3 separate regions of the Homo sapiens genome follow, and all the other regions are linked to region 1. The links come from fine-mapping of genetic effects on gene expression. A gene starts in region 1. Each other region holds a variant in brackets. All regions are shown on one strand. Distances are from middle to middle.

Region 1 (10,676 bases):
GTCAATGGTTAAGACCAAACTTGTAAATTTTTTTTTTAAAAAAACACACTCAAAATGCTGAATGAAATACAAATAGACAAGAAATCGATTTAACATAGAGATTTAACCAAAGACTGTAATAAGGGGACCACCTGGAAGGTGGACTCTATTGAACAAAAGTTAACAAGAGAAGCCAGCTGAAGGAGGAGATAGCTTTCAGACAGCCACGGAAGGGAATGCTGCCTCACATAGGAAGTCCAAAACAGGTCTAAGCCATGCCATTTTCTGACTACCACTGCTTATTCCTTAGAAAGAGAACCAACCACCACAGCAGTGTTCAGCAAAGCTCTCCTACATTCCAAATCTCCTGGTGAAAATACCACACTCAGGACTGGGAGGGCAGCCCAAGCAACTGCAACGCACCCTCTTCCCAGGATCAACAGCACCGCCCAGGCACCCTACACACACCCTAGCTACATCAGGAAGCCACCCTCCACCAAGATCGTTCCTCACAGTCTTCAAGTAGATGGGGTCACCTCCAGCAGGTCATCCATAAGGAATCCTGCCTTTCCTGTCCGGGAATGGTCTGTGCAAGGGTTTGTACTTCCTTCACTGCTCTGTGTTTCCAGCTGGATCCTGGAGCACAGGGGCTGTGCCCTCCACTTCTTAGTTCCTAGTCTATGAGCCTGGCAGCGGCTGAAGCCAATATACAAACCAGTGAAAGGATGAAGTCTCTTTCCATGATGTCAGGTCTAGAATGGAAATATTATTAATTTCATGTCTCCAGGTTGAATATTTGTATTGGGGGTAGAGGGGAAGCAGGAAAGGACTTCCAAAGAAGAGAAGGTTAGGGATGGGCAGTGCAAACAGCTTCACTATTTATTTTAAAGTTACCAGAAGCACTTATATTCTCCACAACCTCTGCAGTACACCCAGATGGCCACATTCATATGGGGAAGCCATCAGGCACAGAAAGGAAGCATGTCATAGAGTCTGAAGCCAAACCAACCTAAACTCAAAGCCTTAGTTTCCTCATCTGTAAAATGGGGATAACTATGCCTAACTCACAACGTGATTGGATCGTGTATATAAAATTCAACATCTGGCACACAAAAAGCACTCAGGAGATGGAAACCATTTATCTGCTGTGTCTTATGACAGATGAATCCACGAGTATCAGATGGGCTCTCTTTGTTGACTAAAGCCAAGAGACCCTTGACAATGATCTCTTCTCCTCTGGACACACAGGGCTGGAACTCGCAGGAGCAGGACTGAGACGGGAGGTCCTAGGTTAGAGTAAGGTGTTTGCACTAGCTGTATACTGCCTAAAAGAGACTCATTCTGTCACCCCAACCCTGGTTCCACCCAGCTATGGGAAATCTCTGCAGAGGCTTCAGGTGTGGATATGTCTATGGGCCAAGAGCGGGGGTGGGAGGCAGGGAAAGTGATGACTGTGACCTTGAGCAAGGCACTTCTCTGCCTTAGTTTCCTCTTTGGTAAGCAGAGTGGACCTGTTCCATGATCCCTGAAGTCCTCCCTGTGCTTCTATTGTACCATCCCCTCTAGGGCACTGGTTATAATTCTCACAGGTCCAAGGGACACCTTCAAATGTGTTCCAATTCCTCCCAGCCACTGAGTAGCCCTTTGGCCCTGCTCCCACGAGAAAGGAGGATTCGGAGCAGCGTTCACGGCTTTCTGGTTTTTGTTCTGTGTGCAGCAGCTCTCCACCCCTAGCTGCTCCTTCCACCTTTCCTTTTCCGCCTCAAAGTGGTCAAGTGCCTGTGCAGGGGCAATCGCTGGCCTGCAGTGTCAGCTCAGAGACGGTTTCCAGACCATCCTGTGTACAGGCTCAGGGTGGACAAATAAACATTTTGGAGAAGCAATAGGAATTAAATCATTTCTTCCACAACAAAACCCTTATGCTTCTTCATAAATCATGCCTCTTCATTCCATACTGATGAACAGTCACTAAATTGCATCTGTTATAAAAACAGCCCTTACTCCTTTCATGCCCAGACACTTAAGAATCAAAATATTTTCACACTCCATTGTACTAATAATGCCTTGCAGAAGTAATACCAATAGCTATTTCCCTGGAAAGATCCGTGGCCAGGGCGCTTTCCAAGAGGTTTTCTTTGAATGTTCTTTGTGTCCTGCTGTACGGGGGGACACGGCCGGCCTGCCCGCATCTGGGGGACGCTGGGCTTGTCCCGGTAATGCAATACTCTTTTAAAGCACACCTCGAATCCACCTCTTCGCCCCGACAATAAAGTATCTCAAAACATTCGATATGCCACATCATACAGCCTTGACAAAAAAGCACGCCGGTGCCTGCATTCTGCAGGAAAAACCAGGCACATTCTGAGATGAAGCCACCAGACCCGCTTCGGGTTCCATGGACAAGAGAACAGCTTTGCAGACCCCTTAGCAAGACCGGCCAGAAGCCGCTCGCTTGTTCGTTTTAATTATTTATTTCCCCCGTGCCTTTATTTGTTGGGCCCCAGAAGAATGGCAAAGCATCTTCCAGAAAGGACGGCGAGGGAGCTGGAGAATAAAAGAGGATGGGCGGGGAAAGCCGGGGTTTTGAAAACAGCAGCGATAAAGGCAGGCGGGGTCGCGGCCGCGTTCCGAGGGTCTCGGCGGAGCTTACCTGGGGCGCACGAGGCCGGCCGGGCCAGCAGCAGCAGCCAGAGGCCAGGAAGCAGCAGCCCCGGGCGGCGGCGGCGGGCGCAGCGGGCGGAAGGCCGTCGGCCGCTCGGCCCCGGGGCCAGCGCGACCCCGGCGCGGGGCTTCCCCTCCATGGCCGCGCCTCGGCGTCGGCGCCGCGCCCCCGGCATTCCCGGCCGGCGCCCCGGCCCGGCCTCGCGGCTCAGCGGCTCTCGGGTCCGGGAGGGGCGGCCGCTGCGGCTGCGGCTGGGACGGGGCGCCGCGCACCGGCGCGGAGGGAGGCCGGAGAGGCGGGGGCGGGCCGGGCCGGAACCGAGGACAGGGGCGCCAGCCGCACGCCCGCCTTGCCGCTCCGCCCCCTTCGGAGCCTCGGAGCCGCTGCCCGGCAACGCGCGGGCCCGGGCGCGGGACGGCGAGCACCCCCTCCCGGCCGGCCGGACGCCTGCCTGCCTGCCTGCCTGCCTGCCTGCGGGGCGGCCGGGGCAGCGTGCGCGGGGCTCGGCGCGGCAGAGGCGGCAAGGGCGGCGAGGCGGCGCGGCCCAGCCCTCCCCCAGGACCCGCCTTCCGGAGGGAGCGCGAGGGGCTCGGGGGGCCTGGGCCGGGCGGTGCCGCCCCGACCCGCACCCAACCCCGGGTCCCGCCGCGCGTTCCCCGGGGCGCCCGGATCAGGGTAGGCCGGCAAGCCGGGGGAGGGGTCCTCTCGCCTCCCTCGCTCCTCCTCTCCCGCCGACTCCTTGCGGGCAGCAGGTGTGTGGGGCGCCGCGCTCTCAGGACAGCCTCGGGGCCGCGGAGGGGACAAAGCCAGACAAAGTCGGGCTCCTGCGCTAGAGCTCAGCGTGCAAGGCAGGGGCGAGCAGAGCGCACGCAGCTCTCCCCCGCCTTCCTGCCTTAAGAAGGTGCGGCCACCTCTGCGGGTCTTCGGGAAGCGACCCTGCGCTCAGGGCCTGGGAGGCCCGCGGGACCCTGCACTTAGCAGGCCTTGAGCAGGCGGCTGCTGAAGCGAATGGGCGTGGAGCTGGGGAGACCCGCAAGGCCAGGCCGTTTTAGGGAAAGTGGCGCTCCTGAGAGGTGGAGAGAATGCCCAGAGAGCGTTTGAGGGTTGGAGTCCGCGGGGGGAATGAGGAACGGGAAGAAGGGAGTTGACATCTGTCAAGTACCTACTGTGTGCCAGGCACGTCACTCTGAAGACGCCCCGTGGCTTCAGGGTCTAGGGAGGAGGAATTGGAAGTTTTGAATCGTTGCATCCCACTGGCATTGTTGCATCAAGCAGATATTAACGGTGTGTGTGGGGGACACTATCTCGTGCAGAAAAACTATGGCAGACAGCGGAAAAGGTGAATCATTACACTGGCAGAGGGATCCTCGCGGCTATTCAGTCGGGTTCCCCTGCCAGGCCCAGCCCTTGAAGGGGCTGCCCAGCCTTGCAGCTCCAACTCTTCTGGACTCCTTGCCCTTGGCGAATAGTTCTTCCTAAGAATAGGACAGGGGCACTCTTCTGTAGGTACACACCTGGTCCTTACAGGTGGGTACTTGAAACCTGGTAGTTTCAAGGAAAATGAGAATAAAGGTTAAAAAAAGCTTTTGTTGATGTTCCTGGTGTTTTTACACGTTATTGTAACCCCCCATCATACAGCCCCTATGTTTATTACAGTAACTGCTCCTGTCTCCCAAAGAGGGTTCTGCGTGCACACCCAGGTAAGTACCTAAGAGAAACTGCCCAGATATGTCTGGTCCCAGGACACCATGGCCATAGATCTGGGACCTCTTATTCACACACTTATCTTTATTCTCTGAACTCTCTATAACAGCACATTTGACCACAAACCACTGCCTTCGTGCAACTCTTGAATGGTCTTGTCCTGTTGTGTTGTTTTATCTTTTATGAATTTATGCTTTGCACACACAGCCCCCACCCCACCTCCAATAAATTAATATGAAATTCAAATATGGTGCTATCCTGCTTAGGATTTCTCATAGCCCCAGTAAGCCCTCAGTAGACAATCGTTGGTTTGAGCCAGAGCATGCATTCCGCCCGTGAAGAGGTTCCATCTTCAGATTTGGCCTCAGCCTCCTGCAAGCTGCCATCTACACTAGACCCGTTGGTGTCAGAGAAAAAAGCCTCCCTCGGCCATGCGCGGTGGCTCACGCCTATAATCCCAGCACTTTGGGAGGCCAAGGCAGGCAGATCACCTGAGGTCAGGAGTTCAAGACCAGCCTGGCCAACATGGCAAACCCCGTCTCTAATAAAAACACAGAAAAATTTACCCAGGCATGGTGGCACGTGCTTGTAATCCCAGCTACTCAGGAGGCTGAGGCAGGAGGATCACTTGAACCCAGGAGGCGGAGGTTACAGTAAACCAAGATCACGCCACTGCACTCCAGCCTGGGTGCCACAGCAAGACTCCATCTCAAAAAAAAAAAAAAAAAAAAAAGGAAAAGAAAAAAGAAAGGAGTCTCCTTCTCCATTCTCTGCAAACTCAAAGACAATAGTGTTTGCCCTGCCATTAAGAGATTGATCAGCTGGAAGTAAAAATAAAAATTGGAACCCTGAGATACTAGAAATGACTCATGGACACCAAAGTGTCCGTGGAAAGTGAGGTCCCTAGGGTCCCTTAGTCTCCCAGCTCTGAAGGCATAAAACAAAATCTTACCTCTGTTAGGATTTAAGGCATTCTGCCTCCATGTCTGGGAAAATGTCTACCAGGCTCTGACAGTCCAGCTGGTAGGTGGTGTTACTCTGCAGACTCAGAGGGGATGAGTGGTCCTTGGAGGTAGGGGAGTGTGTGCAAATGTGTGTGTGTGTGTAAGATTTTAAAATCGATTTTAGAGATCATCTCATCCAATTCTCATAGATAAAGAAACAAGCCAGAGAGGTTAGTTTATTTCCATAAGGCTCAACTCCAACTGGAATTGTCGTCTCCAGTTAAACCACACACCCTCCAGGGGAGGGGGAAAATTAACCTGGGTCCTCGATAGGCTTACAATCTGGTTTGGAGACAGGGAGAGGTAGGCTCAGTACTATCCTTAGACCTAGACGAAGCGGGCCCCACTCTGGCCTTCTCAAACTGCACCTCTCTCCTCAGGACAGAGTCTGTGAAGCCCAGGAAGCACCCTCACCAGCAGCCCATCTTCCCATGCTCAGGTGCCCAGGACCCCAGAATCCTGCCCATTTCACCCCAGGCTCATCTTCAGGCCTATGTGGCCTCTTCCTCAAGTCCATTCTCCCAAGGCTGCACCAAGGGTGTGTCTGGTCCCACGGGGTAGTTGTTTGCTAGGGAGTGGCAAAACTTACGCAGGAGGCATCTCTAAAGATGCGCACATGAAACCTATAGGAATGAAGCAGAGGACCAGGGATGGGAAGAGAAGATCGGGCATGGCCCATATTCACATGGCAACCTGGCTGCGATGTTCTGCTCACAACTGCAGGAAGTCTGCGAATCCTGCCTGTGAACCAGCCTAACCATTCTGAAGACATACGTTTGTTAAGGTAGAACAGACATATTTAATAGTTTGCTTGCTTGGCATGTAACTTGCTGATGAAAATCTGGTCATCGATGTGAAATGGCCAAAATGGCCAAATGTGAAATGGGCTGCGTGAGCCCCTATTTGCACTCTTGACCTGGGCCCCTCAATTCTTAGGGTCTGGATAAGGATGGGACAGAGGGACTGAAGTTAGAGGATGGCTGGAAGTCGGTAGAGGGTAGTGTGAGAGTCCTAGAATAGGAATCAGGACAGCTGAGTTCTGCGTTCTGCTCTGTCACAGAAAAGTTTATGAACTTGAACAAAATGCTTCACCCTACTCTCAAACCTCAAATGTTCTTATCTGATGATGGGCTTCACATGCCTACCTTGCTTAGCTGTGGGTTCGGTTCTTAAGAGAATTATACAAAATAAGATGAATGTTCACAAAGGTCATTCATTAAATTCAATGAATATTTTTTGAGCATGTACCATATGCCAGGCAGTGCAGTGGGCACTGGAGGTATAACGGTGAACAAAACAAAGGCCCTTCCTCGTGGAACTTATGTTCTAGTGAGAGGAGACAGGCAATCAGTAAGTGAGCCTTCGGCTGATGACAACAATTTGCAGAATAACAAAGAGGGAAAAGGAGTGAGGGAAGGGTCAGTGTTACTGTGTTAAATAGAATAGTCAGGGATGATCACCCTACTAAGGTGACATTGGGCCATGGGGATAGCTGGGGAAGAGGGTGTCAGGCAGAGGGAACAACTGTGCAAAGTGGAGAAGTAGCCAGAATAAACATTCAAAAAATATTTACTGAGTCCCTACTAAGTAAGCGCCCCGTAGAGTCATGTGCTAAATGATCAGTAAGATTAATTAGGCCGGGCACAGTGGCTCACGTCTGTAATTCTAGCACTTTGGGAGGCTGAGGCAGGTGGATTGCTTGAGCCCAGGAGTTTGAGACCAGCCTGGGCGACATGGTGAGACTCCCATCTCTATGAAGAAATCCAAAACATTAGCTAGGCATGGTGGCGTGCACCTGTAGTCCCAGCCACCCGAGAGGCTGAGGTGGGAGGATCACCTGAGCCTGAGGAGGTCAAGGCTGCAGTGAGCCGTGATCATGCCAGTGCACTTCAGCCTGGGCAACAGAGCTAGACCCTGCCTCAAAAAAAAAAAAAATAATAATTGTCTACAGTTTTTTCAAGGAGCTTACAGTCTTACGGGAAAAAAAAAAACAAATTTTAAAAACCTACATATTGCAAAGTAGAACATGACAGATGTCCGAAGGAAGTTATAAAAAAAAGTTCAAAGAAGTAGAAATCATATTTGGCACAAGAGATCAAGCAAAGCTTCAGTGTAGTGTTGCATGGAAGCTGGGTGTTAGGGGGCGCCTAAAAAATGAAGAGGACTTGGACAGCTAAAGAGAACAGGACAGGTGTTCCAGGTGGAGGGAACCAACAGTACAAAAATATAAAGGCAGGAATGCATGAAATTTATCTAGCTGATGGCCAGATCAGCTAGAGCAGTGGTTCACAATGCTGACTGCAAATTAAAATCACCTGGACACCACAAACAAAACAAAACAGAACACCCCCAGGCCACACTTCAGACCAGTAAAATCCAAATCTCTGCAGACCAGGCTTGGACAGCCCTGTCTTTTAAAAGCTTCCCAGGATTCCAGTGTGTAAGAACCATTGAGCTAGATGTCTAAGAGTGAGACTTTATAATCACTTACTGAAAGTGGTAAGACATACCAGACCTAGAGAGGCGCAGCAGAGAAGAGAGAAAAGGGAAGCTGATATAGAACAAGGAGAGCTTAAAGATCTGGCTGAAGGGTTTGGACTTAATTTTGTAGGTGACGGTGGATCATTAAAGATTTGTTCAGATATTATTAGAACTAAGCACAAGAAGGATTACTCTATTAACATTATATAAGATGATTTGGAAAGAGAAAAGACTAAAGAGGAGACCAATTAAAACAAGATTTTTTTTTTTTTTTTTTTTTTGAGATGGAGTCTAGCTCTGTCACCAGGCTGGAATGCAGTGACGCAATCTATGCTCACTGCAACCTCTACCTCCCCGGTTCAAGCGATTCTCCTGCCTCAGCCTCCCGAGTAGCTGGGACGGCAGGCGCACATCACCACGCCCAGCTAATTTTTTTGTATTTTTAGTAGAGGCGGGTTTTCACCATGTTGGCCAGGCTGGTCTTCATCTCTTGACCTCGAGATCCGCCTGCCTCGGCCTCCTAAAGTGCTGGGATTACAGGCGTGAGCCACTGCACCTAGCCAGAACAAGATCTTAATGCTGCTGCATGAATATCAAGGATCAAAATATTTTTCACCATCAAACAGACAAAACTTTTAAAATTTTGATTATATTCATTTGTATATTCAAGTGTATAGCAAAATAGGCACTCTCGAATTCTACTGGTGTAGCCATTTTGGAGGATAATTTGACCTTATCTATCAAAATATAAAATCAGCTCACTTCCTTTTCCTTTTTTTTTTTTCAAGTCAAGTTTAATTCAGCTGGCAAATTTAGTCAGGTAATTTAATCAGATAAAATTCACCTTTTTTGGCCAGGCGTGGTGGCTCATGCCTGTAATCCTAGCACTTTGGGAGGCCAGGATGGGTGGATCACGAGGTCAGGAGTTTGAGACCAGCCTGACCAACCTGGCAAAACCCCGTCTCTACTAAAAATACAAAAATTAGCCAGGTGTGGTGGTGCGTGCCTGTAATCCCAACTAGTCGGGAGGCTGAGGCAGGAAAATAGCTTGAACCCGGAAGGCGAAGGTTGCAGTGAGCAGAGATCACATCATTGCACTCCAGCCTGGTGACAGAGCGAGACTCTGTCTCAAAAAATAAATAAATAAATAAATAAAAGTTCGCCTTTTTTTTTTCAGGTTTTAAAAATAATCTTTATTTTTTAAAAGTTAATATGTACAATTCAGGAAACTGAAAAACACAAGAAGCAAAGAACAAAGCTATCCACAATCATAAGCAGTTTGATGAAAATTCACCTTTTAAAAATGTTCAGTGAGTTTCAACAATTCTATGAAATCCTATAACCACCACCACATTCAAGGTAAAGAACATTTACATTGCCCTTAAAGTTCCCTTGTGCCAGCTTGCAGTCTATCCCATACCCTCCCTCTGACAGCCACTGATCTGATTTCTGTTTCTACAGCTTTGCCTTTTCCAGCATTTGACATAAATGGAATTATATAGTATGTAGCACTTTGTGTCTGGTTTCTTTTACTTAGCATAATGTCTGAGATTCATCCAAGTTGTTGCATGCGTCAGTAACTTGTTCCTTTCTATTGCTTAGTAGTATTCCATTGAATGGATATACCACAATTTGTCCAGTCACCAACTGATGAACATTTGGATTGTTTCCAGGTTTTTGGTCATTATTAATAATGCTGCTAAAAACATTTGTTTTCAGGTATTTTGTGTGAACATATGTTTTCATTTCTCTTGGGTAAATACCTAGGAGTAGATCTGCTAAGTCATGTGATAAATGTAAATTTAACTGGGTGGCGTGATAAATGTAAATTTAAACTGCCCAACTGTCTTCCCAGGTGGGATATATTTTAGATCCCCACCAGCAATGTATGAAAGGTCTAGTTGTTCCATACCCTTGTTAGCACTTGATTTTGTTAGCCTTTTTAATTTGAACCATTCTAGCAAGTGTCTAATGATATCTCATTGTGCACTTAATCTGCCTTGTCCTCATGACTAATGATATTGAACACTCTCCATGTGTTTATTTGCAATCAATATGTCTTCTTTGGTGGCATGTCTGTTCAAATCTTACCAAATTGTATATTTATGTATTCTAAATACAAATCTTTTATCCGATGTGTGTTTTGCAAATGTTTTCTCCTAGTCCATAACTTGTCTTTTCATTCTCTTAAGATATTCAAAGAGAAGAGGTTTTTAACTTTGGTGAAATACACTTTTTTATTATTTTTTTCTTTTTTGTTTCATGTTTTTTGTGTCCTAAAAAATATTTGCCTAGCTCGAGGTCACAAATATTTTCTCTCATGTTTCTATCCAGAAACTTAATGTTTTAGCTCTTATGTTTCAGTCTATGATCCATTTGAGTCAACTTTGATGTATTTTGTGAGATTAAAGGGTTGAAGTTAATTTTGTGGGTGTGATGTCTAGTTGTTATAGCACCATTTGTTGCAGACTATCCTTTTGCCATTTAATTGACTTTATATTTTCTCAAAATTAATTGACTAGGTATGTGTGGATTTATTTCTAGACTTTGTATTCTCTTCCATGGAAGACTCACATATTACATGGGCATGGGGGAGTAAGATACTGTATAGTATAATCCCACTAATGAAAAAAAAGTGGGATTGTGATTGTAAACCCACTTTTTAAAAAAGTATGAGTGTAAACAGTCGTTACTACTGGGAAAGGAAATCAAGTTTAGAGAGGAGTTGGGAAGTGAATGTATGAAGGGGAAAATTCACTTTTTGCTCCATATAATCATACACCTGATTACAATAATCTTACCTGTGATTAATACACATCATATCATCTGAACTTTTTTCTTTATTT
Region 2 (10,676 bases), 27 kb before region 1:
GGGATTACAGGCATGAGCCACCATGCCCAGCCGCATCCTCCCTCTGGAGGAACCTGAATCCCGGACAGGGCATCACAGGATTCAGGGTTCACGGACACTTCCCTCCACCCGTGTCTTCGCCTCTCCCACTTCTTTAGATCTCTCTCACCTTCAAACATCAGTGGTCCTCTCTCCCTAGCACAGTTTCTCCTTGACTCTGCTGCCACCCTGCCACTATTTCTTTTCCCTTCCCTTCCCTGGGTGTTTCCTTGAGTGCACAGTTGCCATCCTCTCCCCGCACGTTCTCTCTGAATGGTCTGCTTACACAGGCTGGCCCTGGCACTGCCTATGTCTGTCTCTGCAGTTCAGTGAGCTGCTCCCCAATCGTGCTGGCTTAAGCTATAAACCCACTTGTCAGATGACGACACCTGCTTTCCCCATAAAACTAGTGATTTAAAATGAGCACAGATTTTTATAAAGTACCCAAAACTTAACCAGTCACTCCTCTAAGATCACTCAGGGACAATCTGAGTTCATAAAAATGCTAATGGGGCAAATACTCTTGAACCAACAGAAATTCTATACATCATGATGAGAAAACTATACAAGAAAAGAACATAATACATATGTCTAAGCAACATCCAGGAATTTAAAAGCACTTCATAAATGACCATTAAAAAGTTACCTTTATAAAAACTACGGAAAGCAACTGCTTGGTTTTAACAAATAGTCTGGCTCCAGTGCGTTAACTAAAGAAATACTAAAAGAATCGCCTCTGGAATCGAACAATCTGGACTGGAATCTCCATGAATGCTGGGTTAACCAATCCTGCCCTCAGTGATTCCATCTATAAAATGAGGAAAAGAACACACAGGGTGGTTACGTGGACTGCACGGGTGAACGCACGGAAGGCACTAACTCTAGCTGCAGGTCAGAGCCCCCGGCACTTTACCCGTGCCTGGATCCACCCACAGAGGTTCTGACTCAATGTGGCTGAGGATGGTCTGGGATTTCAAAACTTCCCAGGTGATTATAATCTGCACAAGGTCAAGAGCCACTGGACTGACATGTGGCAAAGCTTTCAAAAACAATGCCAGTTGTTCGTGTAATTATTAATAACATGGCCTAGAAAAATAAGAATCCGGGATTCTGGATCTAAACAAGATGAGGCACATCAAAGAAATCAGGCTAAGGCAAGAGAGCAGTATTCTAACAATCAGGAACCCTAAGGGGAAATGAGTTTGAGAGCACAGACAAACAAACATGTTTTCTTGTTCCTGTTCTTCTCAGCCAGTAAAAATCAGGAAAAATGTAGTTCCCAGGAATAAAGTGAGGACTCTGCATATCAAATGGTGTTCATAAAGGTCACTCATCTCTACACAGTAGGAGCTGTGAAGGGCTGACGTGAATTCCCAGGGCACGAAGTTCTAACCAGCTGCTAATACAATAACCGCCTAATGAGGAATCTTTAACAAAAGTTGCATACTCAAGTCTAAAAATGTATTTTTCATGCAACTTGGCATTGGAGACACTAGCTCTGGCTCTGATTACTTGTTACTTTGTGATATCTTGAGATTTTCAGATCCTGAGGAGGTGTTCTATCTAGAAGGTTCTAGAAGACCTTTAAAACAAGCATCACCACCCCTAATGAGTGGAAACCCTTGGTAAATAACATCCAGTAAGGAGAAAGCCTGGCAAGGAGAGGCCTGGAGGCAAATAAGGAGCAAGTGAGTCTAGACTGAATATTCAGAATATTCTCCTATCACCATTCTCCTATCACCAAGTGATGGATTTACCCGTAAGGACAAATGAGTCAGCTCTCTTTTAAGATGAGAAGTGATCAAATTTTGTTGCTTCAAAAGTCTGTTCTGAATCACTCGTCTTAAAAGCAGCTGTAGCTGGGCACGGTGGCTCATGCCTGTAATCCCAGCACTTTCGGAGGCCGAGGCAGGTGGATCACCTGAGGCCAGAAGTTCGAGACCAGCCTGGCCAACATGGTAAAACCTCATCTCTACTAAAAATACAAAAATTAGCCAGGCATGGTGGTGCACACCTGTAGTCCAAGCTACTCAGGAGGCTGAGGCACAAGAATCACTTAAACCCGGGAGGTGGAGGCTGCAGTGAACTGAAATCAGGCCACTGCATTTCGGCCTAGACAACAGAGCAAGATTCTGTCTCAAAAACAAAAACAAAAAAATGTAAATAATAAATAAGTGCAGCTTCATCTCTACTTTTTAAGCACAATAATAATAGGAAAAAGGAATGATAAAAATAAGCAATTATAAAAAGATACATTTTTAAGAAGGGTCATCCCTCCTATATAAAACACTGCCAGAAAAATAGTACACAAAAAAGCGTAAATCTACAGTGAAAAAACAAAATATGAAAGAAAACAGGTGAAATAAAACAAGGGAAGCTTCCTAAAGAAAGAATACATACTACAAGTAAATATGCTGAATTCAAAAGGGAAAGCTATGTGATCCATATTCCCAAGCAGAGACTCGACAAGAATTTAATTGGAAATGTTTAAGTAATAAAATGTTAAGGCCTTTTCTTGCCATGTTTATAAATTTTCTCATCTATCTTCCATACAATACAAATACATACACAATAAAATAAACTAAACAAGCACTTATTTCATATCTACTGTGATTCATCCATTCTAAGACCTGTTCTTTCACATTTTAAGATATCTGAAATCGGGGTGAATCTAGTTATTGGTACGTACGGTTTAAATGGCAGTATTTTTTCTTCATGATCTTTCTCAGAGGTACAGAAAATAAATGGTGCATCACACTGTTGATGGTATCTTAGTTTCAATGAAATATTATGTTTAGTAATCAACAGTCATATTTCTATGTGCAAAATGCTAGCAAGGCGCTAGGCTAGTAAGCTATTTAAGGAGAAAGGATATACGCACAAGAAGTTAGATTAGTAATAAAAATTGGCTTCTAACAACAGCAAATAAATATACGATGGTAGACAGAAATTGCTAGAAGAATATGAAGCAGAGCGCATTCGTGCAATTTAATTCTATTGGTAAAAATAAGAGCTAAACTTTGCTCTGGACATGGCCAGAATTTAGAAAATTGGGGAACCTGGGCAGGCACTCCCTTTGGGGAAAAGAGCATGAGTAAGATACTAAAGAAAGAACAGAAGGCCTCACGGGGCATGGCTAAGTCGTACTGTGGGCCATTCCTGCAGGGACAGGATGGAGATTGGGTGGGTACTGGGGTTAGACTACAGAAGACCTGAACTGCCAAACTAAGCAGTGTGGATTTTATCTAACAAGCTGGCATCCTTAACAGCCACCCCCTGCCAAAGCGCAGGCTCTCTACGATAGCCTGGGAGAACTCCTCAGGCTCCTGTTCTCTGGCCAAAAATGGTCTGGTTCCTCCTCGTCTGTCAGGTAATTCCTCTGCCTCCGTGGCACCCCCCTCCCCCCACAACAATGCCATAAGCAGTTTTCCACTTGGATCACCCCTCCGGATGTTGTCTCAGACCACCCTCCAGGCTCACGGAAGCCTCTGCCGCTCGTGGAGAGGTACCTGGCCCGTGCAGAGTGACTGAAGCTTCCAGAGAAGGGTGCTTGTGCAGGAACTGCAGGAAGATTCCCGTCCTGCAGAAGAAACTGAATGATCTCAGATCAGGTGGGGAGGACCAAAGAGAAGGCAGGGAAAGAAAAGCAGCAGATGTGAGGGGCATCTGGAAGGGGGACCCAGGGGCTGAGGATAAGGGGGACAGGGAGACAGTAACATCCTGGGGCAAGCAAGCCACACCGCCCAAGAGGCTGCTGGCACCACAGACAGCAGCAGGCCTCGGATTAAGTCCCCGCACACACAGCCCTCCTCTGAAGCACCCTCTACTGGCTCTGCCATGTCTTCATTCAAACACCGATCAGTGTCCTACTATGTGCCAGAGACACCACTAGATTTCGAGGAAACTGAGGTGAGTCAAACACTGTCCCTGACCCCCACTGTCCACAGTCTGGTATTAAAAACAGAAGTGAAAAATAAATCACTGTAATTCACAATAGCCAAAAGGCAGAAGCAACTCACCAACTGTCCACTGGCTGATGAATGAATAAACAAACGGTGGCACATACACACAATGGAATATCACTCAGCCTCAAAAAGGAAGGAAATTCTGACACACACTACAACACAGGTGAAGCTTGAGGTCATTATGCAAAGGCACAAAAAGAAATACTAGATGATTCCATTTACAGGAGGTACATAGAGGAGTCAAATTCATAGAGACAGAAAGTAGAAGGGTGGATGCCAGGGGATAGGGGAGAGGGGAAATGAGGAGTTGCTTGATGGGTACAGAGGTTCTATTTTGCAGGATGAAAAGTGTCGTGGAGATGGATGGTGGTGA[C/T]GATGGCACAGCAGGGTGAAAGTATATCATGGCATGAAAATGTTTACAATATAATGAAAACTGCAAGATGCAAATTGTATACATAGCATGATCCCATTTTATGAAAAAAGTAAAGTCTCATATACATATTTTGAAACACTAGGAAGATGCATATCAAACTGTTTATATAATAGTTATTGTTAGGTGGCAGAAATAAAGATGATTATTTTCTACTAAATATACTTCTGTACTTTCCAAAGTACCTACAAATGAGGACCATTTATAATCAGAGACAAACTTTTTTTATCCCAACAGAGAGGGAATCAACATGCAGGGAACTGAGGCACTGACGGTTGTTTTTTGGGGGGTGGGGTTTTGAGACGGAGTCTTGCTTCTGTCACCCAGGCTGGAGTGCAGTGGTGCGATCTTGGCTCACTGCAACCTCCACCTCCTGAGTTGAGGCAACTCTCCTGCCTCAGCTTCCCAAGTAGGTGGGACTACAGGTGTGCACCACCAAGCTCAGCTAATTTTTGTATTTTTAGTAGAGACGGGTTTTCACTATGTTGGCCAGGCTGGTCTTGAACTCCCGACCTCAAGCGACACGCCCACCTCAGCCTCCCAAAGTCAGCACTGGGTTTAAAATGACAGCTAATCACCCACAGGGATTTAGTTCATGGAACAGGTCTGGAATGAAGATGTAGTTCCAGGTGATCTTCAAGAAAGGAGAGAAGGTGTGAAAAGGCATTCTGAGTTAGGATTCAGGAGGAGAAAGCAGCTAAGGGGAAGAGAAAGATAAAAAGAAGCCCAGCTTTATGAAGCAGCTTACAAATCCAGGGAGAAGCCACGGTACTGAATTCACCAAGTGATATGGTTCGGCTGTGTCCCACCCAAATCTCATCTTGAATTGTAGCTCCCATAATTCCCATGTGTTGTGGGAGGGATCTGGTGGAAGATAATTGAATCGTGGGGGTGGTTTCCTCCATACTATTCTGGTGGTAGTGAATAAGTCTCACGAGATCTGATGGTTTTATAAGGGGAAACCCCTTTCGCTTGGCTCTCATTCTCTCTTGTCTGCCACCATGTAAGACGTGCCTCTCACCTTCTGCCATGATTGTGATGCCTCCTCAGCCACATGGAACTGTGAGTCCATTAAACCTCTTTTTCTTTATAAATTACCCAATCTCAGGTATGTCTTTATCAGCACTGTGAAAACGGACTAATACACCAAGTTGCTATTAATTCTGATCTATTCAATCATTCATATGATCATTTACCTATTTAATTGTTAACTCATAGAAGCATTCCTTCCTACACACCCACCCACTTAGTGATTTAACAAATATTTATTGAGGGCCTACTCTCTGCCAGGCCCAGTGCCAGGTGGAGGGGCTAAGGCACAATCTCTGTCCTCAAAAAACTAGTTAGGAACAATCATAACACAGTGGTCAGAGTTATAATAGGGACGCACAGGGGCAATGAGCATCCAAATCATTCTGGGATTTCTGGAAGTCTTCCTGAGGGAAGTACAGAATCAAGCAAATGAGGAAGAGAAGTGCATTCCACGCAGAAAGAACAGCATGTGCAAAGGCACAGGGGCATAAAACAGTTCAACGCAGTTCCCCATATGGGGAATGACCATACTGCCAGAGCAATACGGTTAACAGGAGAGGCAGGCAATGAGGTAGGAGAGGGGAGAGGAGGAGGCTGTTGCAAATCAAGAAAAACAAGGATTGAACAAACCAGAGACACTGCCATGTGAGGCACCACATGGTCCTAATCAAGTGAATGTAGTGAACACACTGGCAAGGAACTGAGCCGAGGGCCCAGCAATAAGGGAACAAACAGAAACCCAAAGTCAAATCCTAAATCTTGGCCCACTATCTTCTTATTCTTCTTCCCCTCCCCCTCCCCCTCCCCCTCCTTCTCCTTCTTCTTCTTCTTCTTCTTCCTCTTCTTCTTTTTGAGATGAAGTCTCGCTGTTTGGCCCAGGCTGGAGCACAGCGGCATGGTCTCAGCTCACTGCAACCTCTGCCTCCCAGGTTCAAGCAATTCTCTTGCCTCAGCCTCCAGAGTAGATGGGACTACAGGTTCGCATCATGACACCCAGCTAATTCTTGTATTTTTAGTAGAGACAGGGTTTCACCATGTTAGCAAGGCTTGTCTCAAACTCCTGACCGCAGCTGATCCGCCCACCTCAGCCTCCCAAAGTGCTGAGATTACAGACATGAGACACTGCACCCAGTCAACTTTCCTAAAAACATGTACCTATGGACCCAACTGGTATCCCAGGGTCACTTGCTGCCACCTCATCTCTACTGTCCCTTATTCTCTCTTTGTCCACTTCTTCTACTCAGCCTTCCTTCCTCTCCAAGCAACCGTGCATTTCGCTATGGGTGCATACTCATGAGTCAGTGTGTCTGTATTCATGCATGCATTTCCTTGTATGTGCATCTCTGCATATATTGCTATTAATCTATATGCTTGTACTCATGCATCTACGTTTTGAATTTTCCTTTGACAACGTCTGTGAATACATATTTGTCTTTCCTCGTCTTTGCACGACTGTTATCCTCTGGATACATGCACGTTAATGATTATGCGTGTGCCTGTGTGTGTATGCTGAGCATAAGTGGGCATGTGACCCACATGCGCGGGCCACAAGAGGGGCCATCTGCGGGTTCAGCCTGCCTGGCGCCCACGCCCACCCCAGTCTTGCCTTGGGGAACACTCCTTCCACCATGGCACCGGATCTAGGTGCCACCATCACCCACGATGCTCATTCTCTCCTGACCAAGGGACGGGCAACTATCCCAAGCCCCAGGCTCTCTCCCCAAAATCTGAATCTCAAACAGAATGATTAAAAGGCTGAAATTCATCCTGTTGGCTATGCCCTAAAGGAACAGTCTTCAACTCCTACAGCCTGGATCCCCAAGCTGCAGGCCCTGAGGCATCTTGTCAGGGCCACAGAAGTGGAAACTGACATATATATGAATATTTATATAACTTCCCAGCTGTAAAGTTCTATGACTCAGGAGCTTAACAGTCTCACTTACATCCCATGATGACAGCCTTGCCTGGGACTGTCATTTAAATCTCTTTCTCTCCCCCTCGTTTAGCTTATTACTATCCCACTGTCTCACATCAGCTACTCTTCTTCCCTGGTATAGAGAGGACTGGTTTCTTCCTAGCAACCCCGAACAGTAGACGGCAATACTTCCTCAGGGTCACTCAGCAACAATCCAAGATGATCCAAACAAACCAGTATGATTCAGAAGTTGTTCCTGTCCAGGTACGTACCAGTTACACAATTCGAGATATACAGATTTGTTTTTGCACTATAGCCCAAAGGTTTTTTTTTTGTTTTGTTTAGTTTGTTTCGTTTTTGAGATAGAGTGTTGCTCTGTCACCCAGGCTGGAGTGCAGTGGCACAATCTCGGCTCACTGCAACATCCGCCTCCCAGATTCAAGTGATTCTCCTGCCTCAGCCCCCCGAGTAGCTGGGATTGCAGGCGCCCACCACCACACCTGGTTGATTTTTATATTTTTAATAGAGACGGGGTTTCACCATGTTGGCCAAGCTGGTCTCCAACTCCTGACTTCAAGTAATCCACCTGCCTCGGCCTCCCAAAGTGCTGAGACAAAAGTTCTCATACATCCTTTTTTAAACAAATGACCTTAATATAACTCCAAAAATCTGCTATACATTAATTCATTCCCTCTTGGCAATCAACTAAACATCAAGACTTAAATAGCACCACAAATCACGACCATACACAACTAGGGAAAGTCCCATTTATCTACATATTCATGCATCCATCTCTCACGCAGTACATTGTGCTGGACATTGTGGAATAAAAAGATGACGCTAACGGGGCTCCCATCATTAGGAAAAGGGAGTGGGGGCTTATGGCAGAGAGGCCCAACCTGCATAGGACAAAGGGTCTTTATGTTTATTTCCCATAAAAAGCCTGCAATTAACCTAACGCGCATTTTACGAATGGAGAAAAATGTCATCTTTGTTATGATCATTTTTAACCCTGACTGTTGGTTATCAATTATTTCAGCATGAAATATGTCAGCGAAGTTTGGTCATAATTAAAATTTATTTAAATTTACATTAAGTTAGAAGCATTACTTTTTCTGGATTAGAAGATCCATTCATAAATCCCTTTATAAATTTATGTAGATTTAACTGTCAAAGAGGTGTAACTTGATACATTCCTAAGAGCTGAACTACTGGGCCAAAAGGTGTAAACCTAACTTCATTTGTGAGGATCAGAGAGCAACTGTGCCTCTTAATCAGACCCGACCCCTCTTTAAACAGTGCTCTCAAGGACTAACAATTTTCAATTCCAAATGTCACACCCATGTGGGATCAGGTCAGTTCCCAGGACTGGAGAGCAAAAGAGAGACTACTGGTCCCTTAACACAAACAAGCTCTGAAATGTGTCGAAAAATTACTCCAAGATAGGGTGAATCAAACAGGAATTAGAGTGACAGCCCAACTCCAATTGGTCAAAGGCTGACCGGGCCACTGAGGTCCAGGAGAAACAGAATTTGTGCCCTGGAGCTCTGTGGCAGAGGAGATAGTGTAAATACTGTGTCAAAAAATATACATGAGGCTGGGCATGGTGGCTTACACCTGTCATCCCAGCACTTTGGGAGGCTGAGGCAGGAGGATCACTTGAGGCCAGGAGTTCGAGACCAGCCTGGGCAACATAGTGAGACCTCATCTCTACAAAAATAAATTTTATTTTATTGATTTATTGATTTATTTATTTATTTATTTATTTTGAGATGGTGTCTCACTCTATCATCCTGGCTGGAGTGCAGTGGCACTATCTCGGCTCACTGCAACCTCTGCCCCCCGGTTCAAGCGATTCTCCTGCCTCAGCCTCCCAAGTAGCTGGGATTACAGGCACCCGCCACTATGCCTGGCTAATTTTTTGTACTTTTAGTAGAGACAGGGTTTCACCATGTTGGCCAGGCTGGTCTCGAACTCCTAACCTCAGGTGATCCACCTGCCTCGGCCTCCAAAAATGCTGGGATTACAGGCATGAGCCACTGTGACCAGCCACAAAAATAAAAAAATTTTAAATACATGCTACAGTGTTTCCAACACCAGCAAAGGGCTGAACCTCCCAGACACCCCAGGCTGGAGCCCAGGCTGCCACGGCAGGCACCTCACAGAAGCGTATCTGCGGCCAGAGAGTAAAACTGCTCTCTCCATATTGCACGTGCTTTTCTCAAGAAACGCTTTCTAATGCCCTGTAGGACTAGAAACACAAGCGGTGGTGTCTTCCGGATTTTCCAAAGAGATCAAACTATTATGAAGCAAAGTCTCCAGGAACATAAATGATAAGAATGCTGGGAAATTCTAAAAGCACTGCAAACTCCACACAATAAGGGACATGAAAAGAGATGAATGGGACACTAAATGTGTCTTTCCCCCATGCCCTCATAACCTCTCCCTGTGCAGTTCTGACAGAAGGGCCCCTTGCAGGCCATCGGACAGCACAGCCAAGGAGCAGGAGCCATCTGTCCTGCACTTGGATCCGGGTGACGGCCAATGCCCACAACCTCTTGCCCACCAAAGAGTGGGGTCTCCTCTAGGCACACACTGGGAGGTTAAAACCCCATTCTAAGTTGCTCCTGTTGTCCTCGGAGCAGTCTCAAGACTTGAAGTTTGGCACTTGGAAGGCACCCAATTAAAGGTCAAAGTACATAGGAGGGCTCCATGCCAGGAGATCTTGGCGTTCTTCTTTTGAAGTCTATGACGGAAATGCTGCATTTTGAAAGCTACTGGGGGAAGCATTGTGAGACTGAGGCAAACACAGCAGCTGGGCAGAAAATAGATCTATTAGGCTCCTACCGTGGGCTGAGAGAGCTGCTTTGGGATCGGCCCCATGATGCGCTTTCCCTACCCTGCCACGAGGCTATCACCCCCCACAGGGACCACGGGAGGCTGCTGCTGTACACAAAAGGTCCTCACCTCCTCCAGGCCTGGCCCACTCAACAATCCTTTCACAGCTTCCTGCTCTATTCCTTCTTCTGTGATCCACAGATACTATAATTATAAACTACTTTTTTCATGGAACCTGACCTGCTCCTGCCCCATCTCACTTAAGTGATGATGATGCCACTATCAAAAAGAAAAATGCGACCAGGCACAGTGGCTCATGCCTGTAGTCCCAGCACTTTGGGAGGCTGAGGCAGGAGAACTGCTTGATCTCAGGGGTTCAAGGCTGCTGTGAGAGATGATCATGCCATTGCACTCCAGCCTAGGTGACAGATAGAGGCTCTGTCTCTTAAGAAAAAAAAAAAAAAAGAAAGAAAAGGAA
Region 3 (10,676 bases), 160 kb before region 1:
ACAAAGCCACTTACTCAATTTTATTTCTCAATATGTTTTCGTTTTTAATCAAATCTCATTACCCAAAGTCATGTATATAGTAAGCACAGGCAAATGTGTTTTCAGTGCTGTGACTGCAAAGTTTATGTTCCTATCCTATACGTTATTAGTTTTACCATTACTGCTTCTACTACAATGATGATGGTGATTATTAGGGTATGCCACATCATATTACATTCTAGCAATTACTTTTAAAACATTCTAGCAAAACCACACCACTCAATTTTATTTCTTTCTAATTTTTTGTTTTTAATGGACTCTTCATCTTTGACCCTGGTAGAGGGGTGTTTTCAGTTACAAAGCATTTAGGTTGCACAACCCATTAGTTTGAGTAAGTTGCATAGTAACTTTGGGCGACACTAGCGGGGAAGCTCTATGTCTGGGTCGGCACATGTGTGTTTGGGGTGGGGTTAATTGTGAATTAAACATCACCATGTCTTCTGGGTTTCCATCTGATGTGTAAAGGGCTTGGATGCCCATAAAGCAGTCTAGTGTCATTTGCAATTAGACTTAGATTAGTCATAAACGTTCATTGCAAACTTTAGTGCAGAAAAAAGTTTTAAAAAAGTATAATTGATATGCGAAGAGAGAGGAGGAAATAGTATGATATAAAATGCTCAAGGCTGGGCACAGTGGCTCATGCCTGCAATCCCAGCACTTTGGGAGGCCAAGGCTGGAGGATCACTTGAGGACAGGAGGTCGAAACCAGCCTGGCCAACATGGTGAAACCCCATCTCCACTAAAAAACTATACAAAAAGTAGCCGGGCGTGGTGGCGCGCTCCTATAATCCCAGCTATTTGGAAGGCTAAGGCTGGAGAATCTCTTGAACCCAGGAGGCAGAGGTTGCTGCGAGCCAAGATTGTGCCACTGCACTCCAGCCTGGGTGACAAAGCAAGACTCTGTCTCAAAAATAAATAAATAAATAAAAATAAATAAAATGCCGATAAACCAGAGAAAGCAGAAAAGTGAGGATCCCCCAAAAAGAGAAACAAAGGACAAGATAACGAATAGAAAATAATAACAAATATAGCAGACATTAATTCAACCAAATAAATAATCACTTTAAATTTGTATGGTATAAATATATCAATTAAAAGACAGAAACTATATGAGTGACCAAAAAAAAAACAAGACAACTATATGTTGTCTACAAGAAACATACTTTAACTATAAAGACAGATAGCTTAAAAGTAAAGGATGACGAAAAGATATACCATGCTAACACTAACCAAAAGAAAACTGGAGTAGCTATATTCATTTCAGACCAGCAGACTTCAGAGCAAGGAAATTTATCAAGGATGAAGACAGCCATTATATAATGATAAAGAGACCAGTTCTCCAAGAAGACATAACAATCCTTAATGTGCATGCAACTAACAACGGAACATCAAAATGTGTGAGGCAAAAACTGATAAAACTGCAAGGAGAAATAGACTAATCCACTATTAGAGCTGCAGACTTCAACACTGCGCTTTCATTAACTGACAGATCCACAGGCAGAAAATCAGTAAGGACATAGTTGGACTGAACAGCACCATCAATCAACTGGATCTAATTGACATTTATGAAACACTTTATCCAGCAACAGCAGAATACCCATGATTCTCAGGCTCACATGGAAAATTCATAAGACAGACCATATTCTAGGCCATAAAACATACGCTAACAAATTTAAAAGAATAAATAATACCATGTTACTCAATCATTATGTTACACCAAATAACAGACACCATTACTCTGAATGTATCTTATTTGCCATGGAAAATGAAACAGAGTTATCTCTTAAAAAGCACAAAATTAAACAATTTGCTGTGAAATAATGTTTCTGCTACCTACTAAAAAAATCCCAAGGCTTATAAATCTAAAGAAATGGTAACATATTCACTGGGAACTATTTTTTTCCAGAACCAAAAAGGTTGCCAATTTTTGCACATCAACAGAGTGACCTGAATCTTGGCCTGTGTCCTATGCTTTCCCTCCTTTGCACAATAGAGAAATACTCTTGTTCTTCTGAAGGCCTGTTTCCCCATCTGAAGGCGAGTTCCCCCACTATGCTCTGAATCCCAATTCCTCTCACTTTCTCCTTTGTCTTTTGCATTATCCATAACCTCCCCCACTCCATGGATCACTCCCATTAGCACATACAATTCTGGGAGCTCTCTCTCTCTTTTTTTTTTTTTTTTTTTGAGATGGAGTCACTCTGTGTCGCCCAGGCTGGACTGCAGTAGCACAATCTCAGCTCACTGCAACCTCCACCTCCTGGATTCAAGTGATTCTCCTGCCTCAGCCTCCCGAGTAGCTGGGATTACAGGCACCCACCATCAAGCCTGACTAATTTTTGTATTTTTAGTAGAGACGGGGTTTTGCCATGTTGGCCAGGCTGGTCTCGAACTCCTGACCTCAGCCAATCTACCCGCCTCGGCCTCCCACGGTGCTGGTATTACAGGCCTGAGCCACTGTGCCTAGCCAGAATTTTTTTTTTTTTTTTTTTTTTTTTGAGATGGAGTCTCGCTCTGTCGCCCAGGCTGGAGAGCAGTGGCACGATCTCAGCTCACTGCAACCTCCGCCTCCCAGGTTCAAGCCATTCTCCTGCCTCAGCCTCCCAAGTAGCTGGGATTACAGGTGCCCTCCACCATGCCCAGTTAATTTTTGTATTTTTAGTAGAGACAGGGTTTCACCATGTTGGTCAGGCTGGTCTCAAACTCCTGACCTCGTGATCTGCCCGCCTTGGCTTCCCAAAGTGTTGGAATTACAGGCGTGAGCCACCACGCCATGCCCCAGATTTTTTTTTTAACCTAGAACTTTAATAGGATTAAATAAAATTTTCTTGATTTTTGGCTCTGTGTTTTAGCCTGTCAATACCATTTTGAATTCTGATTTTGCCATCCATCACAATCTTTCTAAAATTGTGAGACATCTGAAAATTCAGTTAACTCTGAACACAAAGATGTGACAAGTATGCAGATACTTACCCCAGCTTCTGAGGTTCAGGGGCCAGTTACATCAGAAGGTGAAACCTTAATTATCCTGATAGGGATTGAAGTGTGGAGGACTTTGTCACAGGCGAAAGCATACTTTCGGCCTTGCACATGTCTGGGTCAAGCGGAAACTTACCCTTTGCCCTCTGATGGTTCACTGAAAAATCAACGGACAAAATGCAGATTATTAAGGGTAATGGCGCACAAACTGATTAGCATGCACGGGGGAGGAAAATTACTCAGTGATTGCCACACCACACGATGGGTACAAATGGTTCTAGACCCTTCTTCTTAGAGGAAAGGGAGACGGGGAAGCGCGGGCCATTTTGGGGGATAGTAAATGATTTGTAAGGGAATTCAATGGGCTTGAAGAACATACAATGACCTGAGACAAAGTCTGTTGTGCCTGCGGAGCAGACAATGATTTGTGACAAAAGTCTGTCCAGTTGCATTGACAGACTTAGTCTTTCTTCCTGCGATATGAGTTCAGTTAACAAGACCTCAGGGAAGGGACCAGAGGTCACTTTTCTCTTTTTTGTAAGTCCAGATGTTAGGCAGATAAGGGAACCTCAGAGAACAACTTCATCCTGTATTTCGGGAGAGACAGAGGATGGAGAGACAGGAGGCAGCGGGGTCAGAGAGAACTCGAGACCTCTTCTTCAGGTCAGCATGTCAGAGTGCCATATTTTGGGGTATTGTTTCCTGAGCCCCAACACAGAAATATTAGACTGGTGCCAAGTAATTGCAGTTTTTGCCACTAAAAGTAATGATGACACCGCAATTACTTTTGCACCAACCTCATAGTTGGTAAGCTACTTCTGGTTCATTCCTGTCTGATCGGTGGCTGGGGGAGTCACAGCGGGACACCAGCCGTGGCAGGAAATGCCTTATGAGGAGTTGATAGGTTCACCTGGATAGCAGTTAAAGAGAGTCCTGCAGTCAAGGAAAAGACATCGATACAGATGTTTTTCACAAGGGTCCCTAAAAATGCAGCTTGTGAGCTAAGTCTCACCGTTGTCCAGCATTAAAGACAAAGGCTCAAAACCAAGGGTCACTTTCTGGACCCGGCTTGCCTAGTCACGAAGTTCTCATCTCAGCCACAAACCTGGGAAACCTCTGCAAAATTCCATGAACTGTATCAGGAGGTCAGTGGGGCATTGCCTGTCAACTAGAGCACAGGATAGGCACAAAAGGGTGGGACTCCCTAGGATGCTCTAGCTGCTGGGTGCCATTTCCCTCCAGCAGTTAGAAAAATGGCTGCTGGAGAGCCCCAGAATATCTTCTGATCTTTCTTTCCGGATTGCATCTCACACAAATTCTTATCCTTTTATTGCCACCCTCTGCCCTTGTGTACTCTGGAATCCAAACCAATAGCTTACCAGAAGGTCAATTAGAAAGAAAATCATCCCCATCCGTCCCGATCGCCAAACAACATTAAGTTGGCTTAGATTTATTTGTTATTTAAAAATTTTTTTGTTTTTGAGACAGGGTCTCACTCTGTTGCCCAGGCTGGATTACAGTGGCATGATCTCAGCTCACTACAACCTCTGTCTCCCTGGTTTAAGTGATCCTCCCACCTCAGCCTCCTGAGTAGCTCGGACTACAGACGTGCACCACCACACTCAGCTAATTTTTGTATTTTTTGTAGAGATGGGTTTTCGCTACGTTGCCCAGGCTGGTCTCAAACTCCTGGGCCCAAGTGATCTGCCTGCCTCTGCCTCCCAAAGTGCCAGGATTACAGGCATGATCCACGGCACCCAGCCTTTAACTTTTTTTGAGACAGGGTCTTGCTCTGTTGTCCAGGCTGAAGTGCAGTGATGTAATTCTGGCTCATTGCAGCCTCCACTTCCCAGGCTCAAGCAATTCTCAGCCTATCTTAGCCTCCCAAGTAGCTGGGACCACAGATGTGCACCAACACACCTGGCTAATTTTTTATATATTTTTTAGTAGAGATATGGTCTCGCCATGTTGCCCAGGTTGGTCTCGAACTCCTGGGCTCAAGCAATCCACCCGCCTCGGCCTCTCAAAATGCTGGGATTATTTATTTATTTATTTATTTATTTATTTATTTATTTATTTATTATTTTAAAAAGACCAAAATTTACCAAAATTTTGATGCCAGTGTCTCTGGTGGTAGAGTTATACAGGTTTTTATTTCTTTTATTTTTGCTAATTCACATTTTGACCAGGAAAGGAAGAACAAAAAAAGTTAAGTGAATAGGCTTTAAAAAGACATAATT[C/T]GGCTGGGCCCGGTGGCTTGCACCTGTGATCCCAGTACTTTGGGAGGCCGAGGCGGGTGGATCACCTGAGGTCAGGAGTTTGAGACCAGCCTGGCCAACATGGTGAAACTCCATCTCTACTAAAAATACAAAAATTAGCTGGGCATGGTGGTGGGTGCCTGTAGTCCCAGCTACTCAGGAGGCTGAGGCAGGAGAATCACTTGAACCCAGGAGGCAGAGGTTGCAGTGAGCTGAGATCACATCACTGTTCTCCAGCCTAGGTGACAGAGTGAGACTCTGTCTCAAAAAAAAAAAAAAAAAAAAAAGATATAATTAGGCCACATTTAAATTAGTGATGTTCTAATTTAAATTTGGCCTAATTATATCTTTCCAAAATTTTTAAAAAATTTAACTTTACTCCTAATTTGTATATTAAACTTGTCTCACTAGGAACCCAGAAAGAACAATATCTGGGAAAAGTAATACCAAGACCCAAGCACACACTGGTTCTCGGACTTCCAATCTAGGTAGCGATCACTCTTGTCTCTCATTTACAGCTTTGGGAGGATCCAAGGGGAATAGCTACTTCTGGATTCTGCTAAATATAGAACATCCCTGCTGCTCTTCAAAAGCAGCCACAGTGCAGAGCTACTGTTGGAAAAAAAGACCAACACTCATTTGTTCTGAAATGCAGGAACCCTGTTTGACTTTTTTTTTTTTTTTTTTTTTGAGATAGAGTTTTGCTGCTGTTGCCCAGGCTGGAGTGCAATGGCACAATCTCAGCTCACTGCAACATCTGCCTCCTGGGTTCAAGCGATTCTCCTGCCTCAGCCTCCCAAGTAACTGGGATTACAGGTGCCCTCCACCATGCCCAGCTAATTTTTGTATTTTTAGTAGAGACGGGGTTTCACCATGTTGGCCAGGCTGCTCTCAAACTCCTGACCTCAGGTGATCCAACCACCTCAGCCTCTCAAAGTGCTGGGATTAACCACGCCCGGCCCCATTTTACCTTTTAAGCCCTGTTTTTCTCCTAACTTCTTGCACTAACATTTTCTTTGAAACAATCTCAGAATTTTAAAATGCTTAATGAAAGGAACTACTGATCTGGGGTATATTCTAATACTATATCCCAGAATGAAAATCCATATACAGACATACCTCGTTTGATTGTGCTTCACTTCATTGTGATTTACAGATATTGTGTTTTTTACAAATCAAAGATTTGTGGCAACTCTAAGCAAGTTTATTCGTGCTATTTTTCTGTCTTTTTTTTTTTTTTTTTTTTTTTTGAGATAGGGTCTCACTCTGTCAGCTAGGCTGGAGTGCAGTGGTGCAATCTTGACTCACTGCAGCCTTGATCTCCTGGGCTCAAGCAATCCCTCCTTCCTCAGCCACCCCGAGTAGCTGGGACTACAGGCGTGGGTCACCACACCTGGCTAATTTTTTAATATTTTTAGAGACAGGTCCCACTATGTTGCCCAGGCTGGTCTCAATCTTCTGGGATCAAGTGATCCTCCTACCTTGGCCTCCCAAAGTGTTGGGATTATAGGCGTGAGCCACCATGACTAGCTTGGTGCTATTTTTCCAACAGCATCTGCTCACTTCAGGTCTCTGAGTCACATTTTGGTACTTCTTGCAATATTTCAAACTCTTTAATCATCTGTTATGGTGACCCGTGATCTTTGATCTTTGATGTTACTACTGTTTGGGGGCACCATGAACCATGCCCATAGAACACCACGAACTTAAGAACAATAAATGTTGTGTGTGTTCTGACTGCTCCACCAACCACCTGTTCCCTCGCACTCTGCCTCTCCCCAGGCCTCCCTATTCCCTGAGACACAACAGTATTGAAATTAGGCCAATTACTGACCCTGCGATGGCCTCTGAAGTGTTCAAGTGAAAGAAAGAGGTGCACGTCACTCACTTTAAATAAACTAGACGTGATTAAGCCTGGTGAGGAAGCCACGTTGAAAGCTGACACGGTTTAAACCTCTTGTGCCAAACAGCCAAGTTGTGAACGCAAAGGAAAAGTTCTTCTTAAAAGAAATGAAAAGTGCTACCGTAGTGAACACACAAAGGAGAAGAAAGCGAAACAGCCTTATTGCTCATATGGAGAAAGTTTGAGTGGTCTGGATAGAAGATCAGTCTGGCCACAACATTCCCTTCAGCCAAAGTCTAATACAGAGCAAGGTGCTCTCTAATTCTATGAAGGCTGAGAGAGGTGAGGAAGCTGAAGAAAGGTTTGAAGCCAGCAGAGGTTGGTTCATGAGGTTTAAGGGAAGAAGCCATCTCTATAACATAAAAAAGTAAAGCAGCAAGTGCTGACTTAGAAGCTGCAGCAAGTTAACCGTAAGATCTAACTAAGATAACTGACGAAGGTGGCTACAGTAGAGAACAGATTTTCAGGCTGGGCATGGTGCCTCATGCCTGTAATGTCTGCACTTTGGGAGGCTGAGGCGGGTGGATCACCTGAGGTCAGGAGTTCGAGACCAGCCTGGCCAACATGATGAAACCCCGGCTCTACTAAAAATACAAAAAATTAGTCAGGCATGGTGGCGCATGCCTGTAATCCCAGCTACTCAGGAGGCTGAGACAGGGGAATCGCTTGAACCTGGGAGGTGGAGGTTGCAGTGAGCCAAGATTGTCACTGCACTCCAGCCTGGGTGACACAGCGAGACTCCGTGTCAAAAAAAAAAAACAAACAAAAAACCGATTTTCAGTGTAGATAAATAGCCTTCTATTGAAGAAGATGCCATCTAGGACTTTCATAGCAAGAGAGGAGAAGGAGAAGTCAATGCCTGGCTTCAAAGCTTCAAAGGACAGGCTGACTCTCTTGTTAGGGCGAATGCAGCTGGTGAGTTAAAGTTGAAGCCAATGATCATTGAGCATTCTGAAAATCCTATGGCCCTTAAGAATTATGCTAAATCTACTCTGCCTGTGCTCCATACATGGAACAACAAAACCTGGATGACAGCACATCTGTTATAGCATGGTTTAAAGAATATTTTAAGCCTACTGTTGAGACCTGCTGTTTAAGAAAAAAGATCCCTTTCAAACTATTACTGCTCATTGACGGTGCAACTAGTCACCCAAGAGCTCTGATGGAGATGTACAAAGAGATTAATGTTGTTTTCATATGTAACACAATATCCATTCTGCAGCCCATCAATCAAGGAGTAATTTCGACTTTCAAGTCTTATTAAGAAATACATTTCAGGCCAGGCATAGTGGCTCATGCCTGTAATCCCAACACTTTGGGAAGCTGAGGCAGTCGGATTGCTTGAGGTCAGGAGTTCGAGACCAGTCTGGGCAACATGGCAAAACCCTGTTTCTACAAAAAATACAAAAAAAAAAATTAGCTGGGTATGGTTGCACGCTCCTATAGTCCCAGCTACTGGGAAGACTGAGGTGGGAGGATCGCTTGAGCCTGGGAGGTGGAGGTTGCAGTAAGCAGCAATCGTACCACTGCACTCCAGCCTGGGTGACAGAATGAGACCCTGTCTAAAAAAAAAAAAAAAAAAATTCATAAGGCTATAGGCTATAGCTGCCATAGATAGTGACTCCCCTGATGGATCCGGGCAAAGTCAATCGAAACCCTTCTGGAAATGATTCCTCACTCTAGATGCCATTAAGGACATTCATAATTAGCCAGGCGCCATGGTTCACACCTGTAATCCCAGCACTTTGGGAGGACGAGGTGGGCGGATCACCTGAGGTCGGGCATTAGAGACCAGACTGGCCAACATGGAGAAACCCCATCTCTCCTAAAAATACAAAATTAGCCGGGCAGGCGTGGTGGCTCATGCCTGTAATTCCAGTTACTCAGGAGGCTGAGGCAGGAGAATTGCTTGAACCCAGGAGGCAGAGGTTGTAGTGAGCCAAGATCGCGCCACTGCACTCCAGCCTGGGCAACAAGAGTGAAACTCCCTCTCAAAAAAAAAAAAAAAAAAAAAGAACGTTCGTAATTCATGGGAGGAGGTTAAAATATCAACATTTATAGGGCTTTGGAAGAAGTGATTCCAATCCTCACGGATGAGGAGTTCAAGACTTTGGTGGAGGAAGTCACTGCAGATGGAGTGGAAATAGCAAGGGCACTAGCAGTGGAGCCTACAGATGTGACTGAACTGCTGCAGTCTCATGGTCAAACCTAAACAGTTGAGGAGTTGTTTCTTATGGATGAATAAAGACAGTGGTTTTTTGAGATGGAATCTAGGCCTGATGAAGATGCTGTGAACATCAGTGAAATGACAACAGAGGACGTAGACTATCCCATAAGCCTAGTTGATAAAGAAGTGACAGAGTTTGGGAGGATTAACTTCAATTTTGGAGGAAGTTTTACTGTGGGTCAAATGCTATCAAACAGCATTACATGCTGCAGAGACATCTTCCGTCAAAGAAAGTGTCCACGGAAGTGGCAAACTTCATTGTTGTTCTATTTTAAAAGAAATTATCACAGCCACCCAAACCTTCACCAACCACCACCCTGATCAGTCAGCAGCCATCAACATGGAGGCAAGACCCTCCACCAGCAAAAACATTAGGACTCACTGAAGGCTCAAATAATTGTTAACATTTTTTTAACAACAAAGTATTTTTAAATCAGGGCATGTATGCTTTTTTAAAAAAACAGAATGCTGTTGCATACCTAATAGGCTACAGTATAGCTACACATAGCTTCTGTATACAGTGGGAAATCACAAAGTTCGTGACCTGCTTTACTGCAGTGGTCTGGAACCGAATTTCCAGTATCTCCAGGGTATACCTGTACTTAAACTAACGCATATTTTCAAGATACTGATGGAACCAGCTACCAATCAGGCACTCAGAAACAGCTTTATGAGTTTTCCAGATAGGTTCTGTGTCTTACACTTCTGTAATGCTATACTTTGGCACAAATACAACAAATAATAGTTCAGCTACACAAATGTGGTTTACCTAGATTTGTGGCTACAATTTTTCAAGTCTTCAGCAGTAGAGAAATCAAACTCACCCACCCCCATTTATTCCAGGATGTGCAGAAGGGTGTGGCAAGGAAAGTACCGAGTTCTGTAGAGGGAGAAAGTTACTTAATAGGGCACTATCCGATGAGAACTTTTCATTAATAATCTAACTTAGAAACTGAACAAAAGGATCTCTGTTCTTGTTATTCTTTTCTTCTTACCTTAAGCTCTGCTTGGCAGGTGCAGAGAGGAAGAGGACAGAGGGACAAGAAATGCCAATTATGACTCAAATCCCTATTCATTTATTTATTTTTGAGACAGAGTTTCATTCTTGTCACCCAGGCTGAAGTGCAATGGCATGATCTCGGCTCACTGCAACCTCCACCTCCTGGGTTCAAGCGACTCTCCTGCCTCAGCCTCCTGAGTAGCTGGGATTACAGGCGCGTGCCACCAAACCCGGCTAATTTTGTATTTTTTAGTAGAGACGGGTTTCTCC

Which allele goes with the higher level. Positions count from the first base shown, and alleles are read on the strand shown. Sizes are in standard deviations (SD) of each study's normalised expression. Not every link is listed here.
For the expression in nucleus accumbens of the gene that starts at base 2,936 in region 1, allele T in region 3 goes with a higher level than allele C (small effect, 0.35 SD a copy in GTEx).

What was found. PIP is the estimated chance that this variant, and not a neighbour inherited with it, causes the effect.
Region 2: its variant is the best candidate, but not a certain one, in a credible set for the expression of KIAA1549 in esophagus mucosa (GTEx, PIP 0.76).
Region 3: its variant is the best candidate, but not a certain one, in a credible set for the expression of KIAA1549 in nucleus accumbens (GTEx, PIP 0.86).

Annotation. Positions count from the first base shown.
Region 1 is chr7:138,978,454-138,989,129 of GRCh38, forward strand. It overlaps KIAA1549, which reads right to left and starts at 2,936. Exons shown (of 20, transcript NM_001164665.2): 1 at 2,630-2,936. The coding sequence starts at 2,816. RefSeq lists silencers at 1,550-1,844, 2,684-2,813, 2,854-3,233, 3,254-3,383 and enhancers at 1,855-2,741, 3,364-3,713.
Region 2 is chr7:138,951,199-138,961,874 of GRCh38, forward strand. All of the region lies in intron 1 of KIAA1549, which reads right to left. Among named protein-coding and RNA genes, the nearest start is that of KIAA1549, 25 kb to the right of the region's middle. The variant C/T (reference allele first, on the strand shown) is at 4,357.
Region 3 is chr7:138,818,260-138,828,935 of GRCh38, forward strand. No RefSeq gene overlaps it. Among named protein-coding and RNA genes, the nearest start is that of ATP6V0A4, 25 kb to the left of the region's middle. RefSeq lists an enhancer at 3,621-4,175. The variant C/T (reference allele first, on the strand shown) is at 5,259.